2 linked regions of the Homo sapiens genome follow. The protein of the gene in region 2 interacts with the protein of the main gene of each other region in a biochemical or structural test. Each region holds a gene or a part of one and is shown on either strand. Other genes may lie near its edges. The genes, in order: PAK4 and G6PD.

Evidence for each region.
Region 1: the proteins of G6PD (region 2) and PAK4 form a complex in vitro, tested with the Homo sapiens proteins (one study listed by BioGRID).

The regions. Positions count from the first base shown.
Region 1 is NC_000019.10:39,174,098-39,177,905, reverse strand, and holds part of PAK4 (serine/threonine-protein kinase PAK 4), read right to left. Parts: intron 2,976-3,808; coding exon 2,842-2,975; intron 2,595-2,841; coding exon 2,468-2,594; intron 1,317-2,467; coding exon 1,191-1,316; intron 232-1,190; coding exon 97-231; intron 1-96. UniProt on the Homo sapiens protein: Serine/threonine-protein kinase that plays a role in a variety of different signaling pathways including cytoskeleton regulation, cell adhesion turnover, cell migration, growth, proliferation or cell survival.
Region 2 is NC_000023.11:154,530,653-154,533,938, forward strand, and holds the end of G6PD (glucose-6-phosphate 1-dehydrogenase), read right to left. Parts: intron 3,018-3,286; coding exon 2,924-3,017; intron 2,477-2,923; coding exon 2,290-2,476; intron 2,151-2,289; coding exon 1,915-2,150; intron 1,811-1,914; coding exon 1,734-1,810; intron 1,629-1,733; coding exon 1,536-1,628; intron 1,439-1,535; coding exon 1,348-1,438; 3' UTR 739-1,347; downstream 1-738. UniProt on the Homo sapiens protein: Catalyzes the rate-limiting step of the oxidative pentose-phosphate pathway, which represents a route for the dissimilation of carbohydrates besides glycolysis.

The sequences.
Region 1 (3,808 bases), on a different chromosome or scaffold from region 2:
CCATCATTGTCCCCATCCCATCCACACCCCATGCTCCACCTGGAGCCCTGCCACCCGCCAGCTGGCGCACAGTTTCCCAGCCAGGGAGGGGCCTACCTTGTGCAGGTTCTTCAGTCGGGGTGGCAGGTTGTCCCGAATCATCTTCATGGCTTTGAGGGGTGGCTCGTTGAAGTAGGGGGGCTCTCCGTCCACCATCTCAATCACCATTATCCCCAGCGACCAGATGTCTACCTGGGGCGGGAGAAGGGACAGCAGGGCTGAGCTGTTGGGGGATGGTGGGTCCTGGGGAGGCCTCAGGCAGGGACCGCTCCAGCGCTGTCTCTGCCTCTGGCTCCTGGAGTCCTTGGCCCAGAACTCCCTCTTGGGCACCCAGCCAGCAGTCCACAGAGCACTAGTCCTCCAGGGAGCCCCTCAAGAGAGCTGCCCCCCCAGCACCCACCCCTCTTCTTTCTGTCAACTGCCCCCAGGTGTCCTCCCTCCCTCAGCCCAGGTAGCATCCACTGGTGGGTTCAGGACCCATGCGGCCTCATCACCACAGTGGAGACACAGTGATTGGTTCAGAAACAGGCACAGGACCCAGGCTGAGCCAATCAGAGCCAACCTGGGGACTTTACCCAAAACACCCAGGGAAAAAGAGGAGCCCATAGGTGGGAGACACTTCCCAGAGCTGCCGGGACCAGCTCTGCTCCCACAAGGGGAAAGCCGGCCTGTGAAAACAATGCTCAGAAGGCAGAGCCAAGGCTGGGCGCGGTGGCTCACATCTGTAATCCCAGCACTTTAGGAGGCCAAGGCGGATAGATCACCTGAGGTCAGGAGTTCAAGACCAACCTGGCCAACATGGTGAAACCCCCATCTCTACTAATACAAAAATTAGCCAGGCATGGTGGCGGGTGCCTGTAAAACCAGCTTCTCGGGAGGCTGAGGCAGGAGAATCGCTTGAACCCGGGAGGTGGAGGTTGCAGTGAGCTGAGATTGCACCACTGCACTCCAGCCTGGGCAACAGAGCGAGACTCCATCTCAAAAAAAAAAAAGAAGAATGAATACATGCATGCCTGCAGTACCTCCTTGTCCAGAGCACCATTCCTGGCAATGACTCCCCAGACTGGGCCCCATCTCCCGCCAGCGCTGCAGCTGGAAAATGGCAGCGTACGCTGTCCACGGCGGGACAACCAAGCCACCCCGGGGCTCACCTCTGGCCCGTAGGGAAGGCGGGAGATGAGCTCTGGGGCCATCCAGTAGGGCGTGCCGACCAGCGACTTCCTTCGGGGCACTTCCTTGCTCACCTGGGCGCAGAACCCAAAGTCTGACAGCTTCACCTGGGACAGGGCAGAGGCAGTGGGGTCAGAGGAGCTGGCACAGCAGGAGGGCGAGCAGGGGCGTCTGCCTGCGTCATTCCTTGGCTTCAGACACAATGTGCGGCCCAGAGGTCAGAGCTGGGGTCTAGGGTCAGAGCTGGGGTCTAGAGCCAGACCAATGGGGAGCTCCACCACCTCCTGGTGGGGGCCCTCGGGCAAGTCACCTCCCCCACGATCCCCCCATTTCCCTCCCTGACAGCCTCTGGGGCTTTTGGGGACACTGGCCTGAGTACTGCAGATAGCAAAGGCAGGGCCGGAGCTGGGAACAGGGGTGGCCCCAAAAGCCTGTGCCCTGGGGCCCTGCTGCCCTGGAACAAGTCTTTAGTTCGGTTGGAGCAGAAAGTAGCCCTGCACTAGGGCCGTGAGGGGACACAGCCTGCCTTTGCGACAACCAGGCCTCTCACACCTTCTTAGGAACTGTGGGTCCCTTTCCGATTTTTGAGGATTTCTATGGGTCTTCCTGCCTCCAGCAAACATCCCCACAACCGTGTGTGGACAATCTCAGGTGGCCCATAGACATCGCCCCCAAAACACATCTATAGACATCTGGAGATTTTCAGACTGTCAGTGACACAGAGCTCTCTCTGCCTCTGCCTGGACTAATGGTGTGGCTTAATCTTCCTTGGGGGAGGGGATGGAGTCATCCACTTCTGCAAGCATTTCATTCAAGTCAAGGGCCCTCTCTCACAGAAAATCATGTCCACCCGACGTTATAATTGTCACAGCCTCAGATTTGGAACCTCAGTCCAAAGCATGGAAGACAGGACTGGGGTCCATGGACCGCCCTGGGTGCTGGGCAGGGAGCAGCTTTTCAGTGGAGGAAGAAGCCTGTGGCGGGGGCTGCGCTGTCTGCCCAGATCCCTGCCCCTGGGCCCAGTGTCCTGTGCTGATGGCAGAGCCCCCGCCAGCCTGTGCCCTCCCACTGCACAGAGTCCCCACTGAGCTGGAACCTGACTCTGGGCTGCTCCACCAGGGAGGGACGAAGTTCCCAGCTCCTCAAGACACAGACCTGGGGGTCAGAGCTCACCTACCCTCACAGGGGATGGGAAGAGGCAGGGAAGCCCCGCAGCCGGAAACCTGCCGCCCCCGTACCCCGCCGCCCGTCCCCTCACCCTGCCATCATGGGTCAGCAGGATCGAGTCGCTCTTGATGTCCCGGTGGATGACGCCCTGGGCGTGGAGCACCGACAGGGCCTGCAGCACTGCAAGGCACACGGCCGCGATCTGCTCCTCGTTCATCCTGCGGGGTGGGGTGGGGGGTGAGCAGCCAGCTGGACAGCACCCCGGGGTGCCGAGGGGGACGCAGCCCTGCCTTGCAGTGGGAGGAATCTGAGACCACTCGACCCCACTCTGGAGTGGGAGGAATGGAAGACACGACCCCATCCCAGGGGCCCGGAGCACAGCTGGTTTGGAGATGTGGCCCCACCCCTAGTGGTCTGGAGGGGACTTGGTCGTGTCACAGGAGGGGTCTGAGGCCCCAGAAATACCTGGTGTGGGTGACGATGTCGGTGAGGGCGCCTCCTTCCAGGAACTCCATGACCACCCAGAGCTCGTCCCCCACCAGGTAGCTGTTGTACATCTCCACCACATTCTCGTGCTGGTAGTCCCTCATGATTACCACCTGTGCAGGGGCTGGGTCAGTGGTGGAGGGAGGCGGGAGGGCTGCCAGTGCCAGACCCAGCCACCGCCACCCCCCTGGCTCCCCCTGCAGTTCCACATTAAGCTTGTGCTCACTGGGGCCACCTGGACTGCCCTCCCCTACTGCCACAGCCACGTGGGCCTCAGAGCCAGCTTGAAGCCCACGCCTCCCTTCTGGGGGCGCGCCCCCCTGGGCACACGCCCATCTCAGGTCAGTCCTGGGCTAGTGCTGGGGGGCAGGTGGGAAGAGAGCGTTCAATCACAGGGCTGAGACCCGGACAAGGGCAAGGATGAGAGAAGAGGCGTGTGTCGGCGGGAGGATGAGGAACCCAGGCGAGGAGCTCCATGGTGCAGCCCGGCACTGTGATGGGCAACGGGGTCGAGAGGGGCCTCACACACCCGGCAAAGGGACCTGGGCTTCCTATCGTCAGGGTGCTACGGGGCACTGCCAGGGTCTCTAAGGAGGGACGGGGAGGGGGTGGGCCTGAACGTCAGAAACATACTCTTGGTGGTTGTGTGGGCTGTGCCGAGGGACACCCAGGAGTGGAGGCCAGGGCGGGGCACAGGGAACCCAGGAGGGGCAGGTCTGGAGGACACTGTACCCTGGAGCCCAGGCGGGCCTCAGTGGGTGCGAGGGGCCTGGAAGACACTGGGTCGGGGGTCAGTGGCCCGAGGAACCCTGGGTCTGGGGCTCAGGGACAGAGATGTGGGTGAGGGTGCTGTGAGGACAGAGGCAGGGACCCAGCTGGGGCGGACGAGACGGCCTGGGGAGGGAGAAGAGTGAGGGGAGGAGGGGAGCCTGGCCCAGCACGGAGG
Region 2 (3,286 bases):
GGGGCTGTGTGGGGAGCAGTGCAGGGGCTGAACAGCGGCCCCCAAATACATGTCTCCTGGGAGTTCCTGATGTGGCCTTATTTGGAAATAGGAGGTCTGCAGATGTCGCTGAGTTAGGACATAGAAGTCACACCATGGGGAGGCCACGAGAAGACAGGCAGAGTGAGTGGAGTGAGGTGACCACCAGCCCAAGATGCCTGGTTCCCCAGGAGCTGGAGAGGGCAGGAAGGACCCTCCCCTTGGGCCTCTGGCGGGAGTGCTGGATCTTGGACTCTGGCCTCCAGAACTGGGAGAATCAGCCTATGTTGAGAGCTGCCCAGTGTGTGGCCCTTCTGCCTGGAAGGGGTGGCTGGGCCTGGCTGTGCATCACTGTGGACTGTCCCCTCTCCCTTGGCCTCTGACATCAGTCACAAAACCCATCCCCTCTCCTTCCTAAATACTTCTGTGGACTGGCAGTGTTGCTGGAAGTCATCTTGGGTGGGGCAGGGACATGGACAGTAAGAGCGGAAGGTGACCCCACATCCTTGCACCTCAAGCTGGTCTCACAATGACAATATGCGTGGAGCGGAGGAGGACTCAGGAGGTGTCTCTGACACCAAACATGGTCATGGCTGGACATGGGGTCAGAACCAGAAGTGAGGAGGCTCCTCAGTGGCCACAGAGGAAGCACCCGGGTGACTTGGGGAGTGGGACAAGGAAGTGGGTCCTCAGGGAAGCAAATGACAAGGGGACAGGAGGGGCTGTTTGCGGATTTAATGGCAGGGCATTGAGGTTGGGAGGGGTCCCAGCTGCTGCGTCTGCTTTTCTTATAGCAGAGAGGCTGCCTACGGGTGGCACGGGGTGGCCATGGAGTGCAGAGTTGGTGGGACAGGGGACATCCAGGGGGCTCGAGATGTTGCTGGTGACAAGGAATGTCAAGTGGCACTGAGGCTGGCGGGCAAGGCCACAGGCAGATTCTCTCACGTGGGTGCTCGCCCCTTTCCTCCCCCTCGTCCCTCCCTCCCACCCTGGCCCCACTCAGGAGTGAGACCCAGTGGCCAATAAGCTCTGGGACAGACGAATGGGCGCCCTCCTCCTTCCTTCTGTTGGGCTGGAGTGAGTGGAGGAGGTGACTCAGCTCCTGGGCTCAGGCAGGGTCTGGAGGGGCCAGGATGGTCTCGAGTGCTTGGCAGCTGAGGAATGTAGCTGGGCTCGGGTAGTAGCAGCAGCGAGGGGCGGGCCAGGGTGGCCAGAGCCCGGGGCCAGGAATGTGCAGCTGAGGTCAATGGTCCCGGAGTCCTCCCGACTCGGGGTCGGGCGGCGGGAAGGAGGGTGGCCGTGGCGGGGGTGGAGGTGGGTGCCCAGGGCTCAGAGCTTGTGGGGGTTCACCCACTTGTAGGTGCCCTCATACTGGAAACCCACTCTCTTCATCAGCTCGTCTGCCTCCGTGGGGCCTCGGCTGGAGAGTGACGGGTGGAGGAGAGGCATGAGGTAGCTCCACCCTCACCCCGCCCCTGCCCGCTGGGCTCTGTCCCCAGCCCCCACCCTTTCCTCACCTGCCATAAATATAGGGGATGGGCTTGGGCTTCTCCAGCTCAATCTGGTGCAGCAGTGGGGTGAAAATACGCCAGGCCTCACGGAGCTCGTCGCTGAGGGGACATGGTATGGCTTGGGAGGCCGGTGGCACACAGGGAGGGAGGGCAAAGGCCACCCCATAGCCCACAGGTATGCAGGGGCCGGCAGCTGGGCCTCACCTGCGCACGAAGTGCATCTGGCTCCCGCAGAAGACGTCCAGGATGAGGCGCTCATAGGCGTCAGGGAGCTTCACGTTCTGTGAGGGAGAGAGTGTCTTGCTGATGCCACTGCCTGCCACCATGTGGAGTCCCCCGGGCCCAGGCCGCCCACCCTCCACACTGCTCCTTCTCTGTAGGGCACCTTGTATCTGTTGCCGTAGGTCAGGTCCAGCTCCGACTCCTCGGGGTTGAAGAACATGCCCGGCTTCTTGGTCATCATCTTGGTGTACACGGCCTCGTTGGGCTGCACGCGGATCACCAGCTCGTTGCGCTTGCACTGCTGGTGGAAGATGTCGCCGGCCACATCATGGAACTGCAGCCTCACCTCGGCCTTGCGCTCGTTCAGGGCCTTGCCGCAGCGCAGGATGAAGGGCACCCCTACGTGGCGGAAAGGGCAGCCTCAGCACCAGCTCTCTCAGGGTGTGGACCAGTGCGTGAGTGTCTCAGTGGGAGCTCCAGTGCCCGCACACAGGGCATGCCCAGTTCTGCCTTGCTGGGCCTCGAAGGCATCACCTACCATCCCACCTCTCATTCTCCACATAGAGGACGACGGCTGCAAAAGTGGCGGTGGTGGACCCGCGGGGCACCGTGGGGTCGTCCAGGTACCCTTTGGTGGCCTCGCCCTCTCCATCGGGGTTCCCCACGTACTGGCCCAGGACCACATTGTTGGCCTGCACCTCTGAGATGCATTTCAACACCTTGACCTGAGAGAAAGCCAAGGGAGAGAATGGGCTCCTTGGGTGTTGAGTTGGGGTGCAGGGATGACTGTGGCCACAGATGTGCAGCCCTCAGGGCAGGAGGAGGCCCCTGCTTGGCTCTGCTCACCCTGCCAGAGGCCCAGCTCAGGGCCCCTCCCTGAGGACCCTCCAGGACCACCCTGGTCCATCTCGAGTCTATTCTGATGAACAAGCTGAGGCCCAGAGAGGCAATGGCCTTCCCTGGTCACATAGTGACTGTCAGGCCTGGGACATGACAACTTGGGCTTCATGACTGCCAGTCCAGGTCACCTCCGGGAGGCCACGCTGTGCTCAGAGGTGGTGACTTCTCCGGGGTTGAGGACACCTGCTCTGCATGCACACCCCAGCTCAGTGCCTCGTCACAGATGGGCCTGCGACAGGGCATGCTCCTGGGGACTGGGGTGCACCCCCTACCTTCTCATCACGGACGTCATCTGAGTTGGTGGAGGCGGGCTTCTCCATGGCCACCAGACACAGCATCTGCAGTAGGTGGTTCTGCATCACGTCCCTGGGGACGGAAGAGGCCAGAGCTCGCCTTAGCTCCCCGCCCTGTTCACCTGGTTCAAGGGCATGGGGACCCCAAACAAGGCTTCCTAGTGACAAGCTGCAAGACTCACTTCCTGATCCCCCTTGTCTTCCAGGTCCCCTTAAATCAAGGAAGGACATGGTGATGCTATCACTGAATCATAAAACCGTGGGGTGCTTGGCTGTGTAGGGGTCCAGCCCTTTCCAGCCCGGTCTGATAGCTCAGACACTTAGGTTTTGAACTGCAGGGTG